2 linked regions of the Homo sapiens genome follow. The protein of the gene in region 2 purifies or fractionates together with the protein of the main gene of each other region. This does not show direct contact. Each region holds a gene or a part of one and is shown on either strand. Other genes may lie near its edges.

Region 1 (3,953 bases), on a different chromosome or scaffold from region 2:
GCCAAGGCGGGCGGATCACAAGGTCATGAGATCGAGACCATCCTGGCTAACACGGTGAAACCCCGTCTCTAATAAAAATATAAAAAGTTAGCCGGGCGTGTTGGCGGGCGCCTGTAGTCCCAGCTACTCGGGAGGCTGAGGCAGGAGAATGGCGTGAACCCCGGAGGCGGAGCTTGCAGTGAGCCGAGATCTCTCCACTGCACTCCAGCCTGGGCACAGAGCGAGACTCCGTCTCAAAAAAAAAAAAAAAAAGAAAAAAGAAAGAGTGAGACTCTGTCTCAAAAGAAAAAAAATAAAAATAAAATCAATAAGTCAGTCTTGGAGCCAGCATATCTAGGCGGTGTTTGTGGCTAATGTTGTAGGTTAGCCCATATTCCCACCCCTTCTCCTTTGCTTTTCTCTGCTCTGAGGCTAAATGCTGCAGACTAGAATCCCCAGGCCCCCTTGCAGTTAGAAGTGGCATTGATACAGTTTTGGCTAATGAAATGTACACAGAAACCTGCTGGGTAATTTCTTTTCTTTTTTCCAACTATCCAGACTTATAGGAGATGGGGAGGTTTGTGCTGCAGGGATACTGACCTTTGGTGCTTTCCCTCTTCCCTACCTTGAATGTGGATGTCCTGGCTGGGAACCCAGCTGCCAGCTCATGACCAGGAGGTAACAAGCAGGAATAAAAGGCCACCAGAGTCACAGAGACGAAGCTGCGGCGTTACCGAGGTGCGAATCACTGTGATTCCTAGGTGCGAATCATCACCAGCAATCACTTCTCTCAGGACTCCTTGTTAAGAAAAATAAACTCCTATTTATTGAGACCATGAGAGTTACGTTGAGAGGTATATTGTTATTGAAGCTGACAATATTCAATGCCATGAGTTTGAAGATCATCCCTGGGTCATTAACATATAAGCAGGGAAGAAAATGTGGCCCGAAACAGTCTGGGACATGAGAAAGCAGTAGGAGAGGAAGCCCCAAGGAAAGGGGGAAGCTGCCGCGCGGTGGGCAGAGCCAGGAGCACCGGGCTGAGGCGGCCGGGAGCGCAGCGGCTTCTAGGGGTGAGTGGGACCCACGCGGCCCCACCTGCTCCTCCCGCGCGCGGCCCCACCCCCCTGCCCCGCCCCGCCTGGTTTATAGGTCCCGGCCCGAGCCTCCGGCCGCCCGCCGGGTTTGTCCCGCGATCCCCGACCATGCCCGCCGACCTCAGCGGTACTTGGACCCTGCTCAGCAGCGACAACTTCGAGGGCTACATGCTGGCCCTAGGTAAGGCGGAGGGGAGGCGGCGGCGGCGCGAGGCTCGCCGTGGGTCTCGGGATCAGGCGAAGGCGGCCGGGCCGGGCCTGTAGGTACGTCCTCTGTCCGTGCCTCCGCCCTGCTGCGCCCACCGTCGCCCAGTCGCCCCCGAGTCCGCTGGTCCTTGGCGCCTCCGTCCATCGGGCGCGGGACCCCAGTCCTTCAGTCCCCCAGTCCGTCCTTTCCCGCGCCCACCCGCCCCCCTGTCCCCACGGCCGTCTCTCCACGCCCTCTGTTCCCCCGGCCGTCGGTCCCCCACCCGTCCGTCCCTGAGTGCCCGCGTCCAGCCCCACGTCCGTCTCTACCCGCACGCGGCACACCTGCGGAGACTGCAGACTCGGGGTCCGGCCGGGGAGGGGGGTCCGGCCGGGGAGGGGGCGCCCGGGACCGAAGCCTCTGCCCGGCCACCCTCCCCGCAGCCGCCTTCCGTGCAGGCCCCGGGGCCCCGGGCGCGCTCCCGCAGCGAAGTCCCAGCAGCCTCGGCGCACCCGGAGCGGGTCGGGGATGCAGAATCCTGGAGCCAGCGGACGACCCTTCAGGTCCGGGCACCCGCGGGAGTGCAGAGCCTGGTTCGGCCCGGGGCGTGCCCCGACCGCCGCCTCCCACGAGGGCTGGGTGCCCGCGGCGTTCTTGCTCCCGGGGGCCCCGCGCTGTGCTTCCCGCCCTCATCGCGGTGCCAACGGTGCGCGGACTCTCAACTCACTGCAACCTCCGCCTCCTCGGTTCAAGCGATTCTCCTGCCACAGCCTTCCAAGTAGCTGGGATTACACGCGTGCGCCAGCCACCACGTCCGGCTAATTTTGTACTTTTAGTAGAGAAGGGGTTTCACTATATTGGTCAGGCTGGTGTCCAACTCCTGACCTCAGGTGATCCACCCGCCTTGGCCTCCCAAAGTGCTGGGATTACAGGTGTGAGCCACGCGCCCTGCCACGAGTGTAGTTTTTCTTGTAGCTTTAGGAATCTGGGAAGTTGCCGTGCCGGCCAATCCCTGAACCCTTGACCCGTGGGCAATTTTTGTTTTCTTTTTTTCTTTCTTTCTTTCTTTCTTTTTTTTTTTTTTTTTTGAGACGGAGTCTCGCTCTGTTGCCCAGGCTGGAGTGCAGTAGTACGATCTCGGCTCACTGCAAGCTCCGCCTACCGGGTTCACGCCATTTTCCTGCCTCAGCCTCTCCGAGTAGCTGGGACTATAGGCGCCCGCCACCACGCCCAGCTAATTTTTGTATTTTTTAGTAGAAACGGGGTTTCACCATGTTGGCCAGGCTGGTCTCGAACATCTGCCCTCGTGATCTGCCCACCTTGGCCTCCCAAAGTGCTGGGATTACAGGCGTGAGGCACCGCACCGGCCAATTTTTGTTTTCTTAACCTTAGGGCCCATCTTAGTTGATAAAGGGGCATTTATTTTGCTCTTTCATATCCCAAGAGATAAGAGTGTTCCTCTGGGTATGGGAAAAGCACCTCTCACTTGAGAGTCTTATGATCTTCTTCAGAGGAAGAGCAGAGAATTCTTTTATGGCCTGCTTCAGGGAAGAGGGGCAAAAGAAGGTCTGAGGGGGACCTTCCTGCTACTGTTATTTCCTCAAATGCCAAGTGATATGGTTTGGCTGTGTCCCCACCCAAATCTCATGGGAGTTGTAGTTCCCATAATTCTCATGTGTTGTGGGAGGGACCTGAGGAGAGGTAATTGAATCATGGGGTAGTTTTCCCCACACTGTTCTGGTGGTAGTGAATGTCTCATGAGATTTGATGGTTTTACAAGGGGTTTCCCCTTTCATTTGGCTCTCATTCTCTCTTGCCTGCCACCATGTAAGACGTGCCTTTTGCCTTCTGCCATGATTTTGAGGCTTCCCCAGCCACGTGGAACTGCGGCAGTTAAACCTCTTTTTCTTTATAAGTTACCCACTCTTGCCAGGCTCGGTGGCTCACGCCTGTAATCCCAGCACTTTGGGAGGCTGAGGCGGGTGGATCAACTGAGGTCAGGAGTTCAAGACCAGCCTGGCCAACATGGTGAAACCCCGTCTCAACTAAAAATACCAAAAAGAAATTAGCTGGGCATGGTGGCGGGCGCCTGTAATCCCAGCTACTTTGGGAGGCTGAGGCAGGAGAATCACTTGAACCTAGGAGGCAGAGGTTGCAGTGAGCTGAGATGGTGCCATTGCACTCCAGCCTGGGCAACAAGAGTGAAACTCTGTCTAAAATAATAATAATAATAAGTTACCCACTCTTGGATATGTCTTTATCAGCAGCGTGAAAATGGACATAAGGTGCCATGTTCTGAGGTCGCCTATCCAGAAACCCTTAAATCCAGAACGGTTTTCTGAAAACCAGCAACTGTGTTTCAACTTCAGATCTAATTTGTTAAAGTACTAAGTACTTACATCAATTTGTTAAAGTGCTAAGTACTTAGGTCACACTTATAGCACTAGAGTGGTTGTTTACATAATACTGTAATACTCTTTTTTTTTTTTTTTTTTTTTTAGATGGAGTCTGGCTCTATTGCCTAGGCTGGAGTGCAGTGGCGCGATCTCGGTGTGAGCCACTGTGCCCAGCCATAATACTATAATACATTTTATCTTAAGAATTAAGTTGGTCTGGGTGCAGTGGCTCACACCTGTAATCCCAGCACTTTGGGATGCTGAGGCAGGTGGATCATGAGGTCAGGAGTTCAA
Region 2 (3,500 bases):
GTCTAACCATGAGAAAAACATCAGACTGAACTGGAAGGTTGGACAGAGCTTCCACAGTGTTCTTTTTCATAGTTGGGATGACTTTACATTTGGAAACCAGATCTAAAGTATTAGTAAGAATCGAAATGCTTGCAAATTAAGAATAATTAAAATAATTTTATGTTATCTAGATAATTGGTTTGTCTAGTATTCTGAATCTAAAAAATACAGTCATCTATAGATGGTAATATATTATGATACCTCTATGATCATAATATTTGATTAATATCCATTTCCCAGGCCAGGTACAGTGACTCACACCTGTAATCCCAGCACTTTGGGAGGCTGAGGCAGGCGGATCTCTTGAGATCAGAAGTTTGAGACCAGCCTACCAACATGGTGAAACCCCATCTCTACTAAAAATATAAAATTAGCCAGGCATAGTGGCGCACACCTGTAATCCCAGCTACTCAGGAGGCTGAGGCAGGAGAATCGCTTCAATTCAGGAGCCAGAGGTTGTTAGCCGAGACCACGCCACTGCACTCCAGTCTGGGCAACAGAGCGAGACTCTGTCTCAAAATAAATAAATAAATTTATCATACATCAGAAATAGGTTTATTATATTTATATGTAAATATATACATTTATATTTATTATATTTATATGACTTAAGGTTTTGATGACGTGATGATGCTCTAGGGCTGTGATTCTCAATGGGGAATGAATAAAATTTAACCAAAACTTTTTGGCTGAGGAGAAAATACAAACAATTATGGCAGGTAACTAGGTTAACCTGTGGATGGCAAAACATGACTACGAAAGAAAAGAACATTTAGAAAGCCTTGGGGAGGGAGGAGGATCGAAAAATAAAATTTAATTTAAAAAGAAAGAAAGAAAGGCAATAAAGTGTGTAAAATAACTCCAAGAGATCTTTCTTCACAATGCCCATTTCTGTATCTGTACAAAATTCCCTATGCCACTATGTCAGACAATCTCTTTAGCACTCAGCACTCAAAATGCTAGAGCAAGATGAACTAAATTCAAAGACCCTTTTGACACGGAGTCCATCCATTTATTTCAGAGATCCCACTCAAGCAAGTGAGGCAGTAGAGAAGAATAAAGAAGCAATTTAGTGCAGTGTTTAGTAAGAGTACATGTTTGACACTTAACATGCCTGGGTTGATTTGCAGCTTTGCCTTTTATTACCCATGCAACATCAGGAAAGTTTCATTTATTTATTTATTTATTTATTTATTTTTTGAGACACAGGCTTGCTCTGTGGTCCAGACTAGAGTGCAGTAGTGCAATCAAAGCTCACTGCAGCCTCAACTTCATGGGCTCAAGCGATCTTCCCACCTCAGCCTCCTGAGTGCTGGCACTACAGATGTATGCCACCATGCCCAGCTAGTTTTTTGGGGTTTTGTTTTGTTTTTTTTTTGGAGAGACAGGGTCTTGCTATGTTGCCCTGGCTGGTCTCAAGCTCCTGGGCTCAAGTGATCCTCCCGCCTTAGCCTCCCAAATTGCTGGGATTACAGATGTGAGCCACTGCAGGTGGCCAGGCAAGCTTCTTAACCCCTCTGTTCCTTAGTTTCTTCACCTGTAAAATGGTTCCAACTTTAGAGGGATGCTGTGAGGATGAAATGAGATAATCTAGGTAAAATTCTTAGTATAGTACCTGATACAGAGTAATGTTTGCTATCATTATTATTATTACATATTTCAAAAATCCCTCACTATCAAACTGTTTGGTCTTTGTTATGTACACAATTCATAAAAGGCAAATCTGTGGCCCACCAACCTTTCAGAGTTCCATAGTACCTCAAATCAGATGACAAAGATAGGCTTGGACACAGAGCCCACAACTCAGAAAAGTCTGTACCCCAAAAGTTCACCTTTTAGTCAGTGGAACACATTTCCCTAAGTGCACAATTGAAACAAGCAGTGGCTGTTATTCCCACTGCAGATGAAAGGTGTGAGTAGGTGGGTCTGAGCATCTCACTGTGACCAGTACCACTGCTCTGCTGGGGAAGGTATCTGTGGTACCTGGAAAGAAAAGAACACCGTGACCCTGGAAAAAAGACATCTTCCCCTGCCATTGCAGCAGCTTGAAAATACATCTTATTCTCAAGGACTTCAAGAACCTAGTCTGTACTGTACAAAGAACATCATAGCACTTGCTGTGTCAACATTAAGAAACACTGTAATCCACAATACACACAAAGATTATAAAATAAAAAAGTACGGATTTGTTTCTATTTCAAACTCTGACTATGCTTTGGGTAATGACCTTTCAAAAGCAGGACACTTTCTAATTGACACTGTCAGAGACCAGGAAGTGCCCCCCAAAATATGCCTCTTTAGCTAAGGATTTTTTTTGAGCTAAAGGCAATTAAGCAGCAGCAGATGGAGGAAAGCTCTCGGCCCTCCGTTTGCCTAAAATCAGGACATATAATAGATTTACAAAGAGAAAAGGTATCCTGCCCACCTCTCTCCCAAGGAAAACAAAGGTTAATCACTGAAGACAACTTTAGACCCCTATCAGTCTGGAGACAGCACAAGAGAATCCACATTAACGAGCTTTACTAACTAGCCTTAGTATTCAGTTTCCCACAAGTTGTCACCCTGAGAGATTTAGAGTTCATTTCCTTTGTCTTGTCACTTCTCTAAAATTTTACTGTTCTTTGTTGAGGATGCTACCTAATCTGGGGGAGTGAGGAGAATGAGAGAGAAAGGGGAAGAGGAGAGAGGGGAGAGAGTGAGGAATTGTTTCAAGGTGAGCAGGTCTATGTGAACCTGCCCCAGAAAGTCCGAGGAAACTGAGAGGCTGAAGAAAGAGGCTGACATATTCAGTTTCTTAGAAAGACATATTTAATAGGAACTTACAAACAGAAGCCATGTCTGTGTCTCAGGCTTTGGCAGGACAAGACAAGGGATCCACGCACCACTACCCCCCAGACCCAGGGCTTATATCATAGGGAAAGGGTGATCTGAAGGGATGTGTAGGGCAAGCAAAGTACAATAACATCAAGGTTGCTTGACCTAAGGTCAGGATTTATAGTAAGTACCTGTTCTTACATAGGGAATAGTAGATAACCTGGAAATCTTAGAGGTATCTTGAAACTGGGGCTAATGAGAAGTCAATATGGCAGATCAGTATCCAAGATGGAGTTGCTTTGGCCTCCGCAGGAATAAAACAAACATAGCAAAATGTTAACACAAGGAATCTGTGTGAAGAACATCCAGGAATTCTTTGTCTTGTTCTTGCAACTTGTCTATGAGTTTGAAATCATGTCAAAGTAAAAAAATTACATTGGATATAAAGCAATACCTTTGTCAAAAGCAATGGAACTATACAAGAAATCTGCAGATTGCACCATATGTAAATAACACTTCAATTAAAGTAATGAAACCTTATTTTAGATGTTTTCTCAAAGTTCGATGATTGGAACACTTCAATAATTAAAAATGGAGAAGAGAAACCCATTGAGGACATAACAGAATGAAGACTAACTTCATGCATA

What was found.
Region 1: the proteins of C2orf76 (region 2) and RBP7 fractionate together in Homo sapiens (co-fractionation; one large-scale study listed by BioGRID). This does not show direct contact.

Annotation. Positions count from the first base shown.
Region 1 is NC_000001.11:9,996,075-10,000,027, forward strand, and holds the start of RBP7 (retinoid-binding protein 7), read left to right. Parts: upstream 1-1,153; 5' UTR 1,154-1,184; coding exon 1,185-1,257; intron 1,258-1,607; coding exon of another isoform or gene 1,608-1,956; exon of another isoform or gene 1,957-2,015; intron 2,016-3,953. Other genes in the region: translation initiation factor IF-2-like, read right to left, coding at 645-778, 1,608-1,956. UniProt on the Homo sapiens protein: Intracellular transport of retinol.
Region 2 is NC_000002.12:119,335,835-119,339,334, forward strand, and holds part of C2orf76 (UPF0538 protein C2orf76), read right to left. Parts: intron 1-3,500.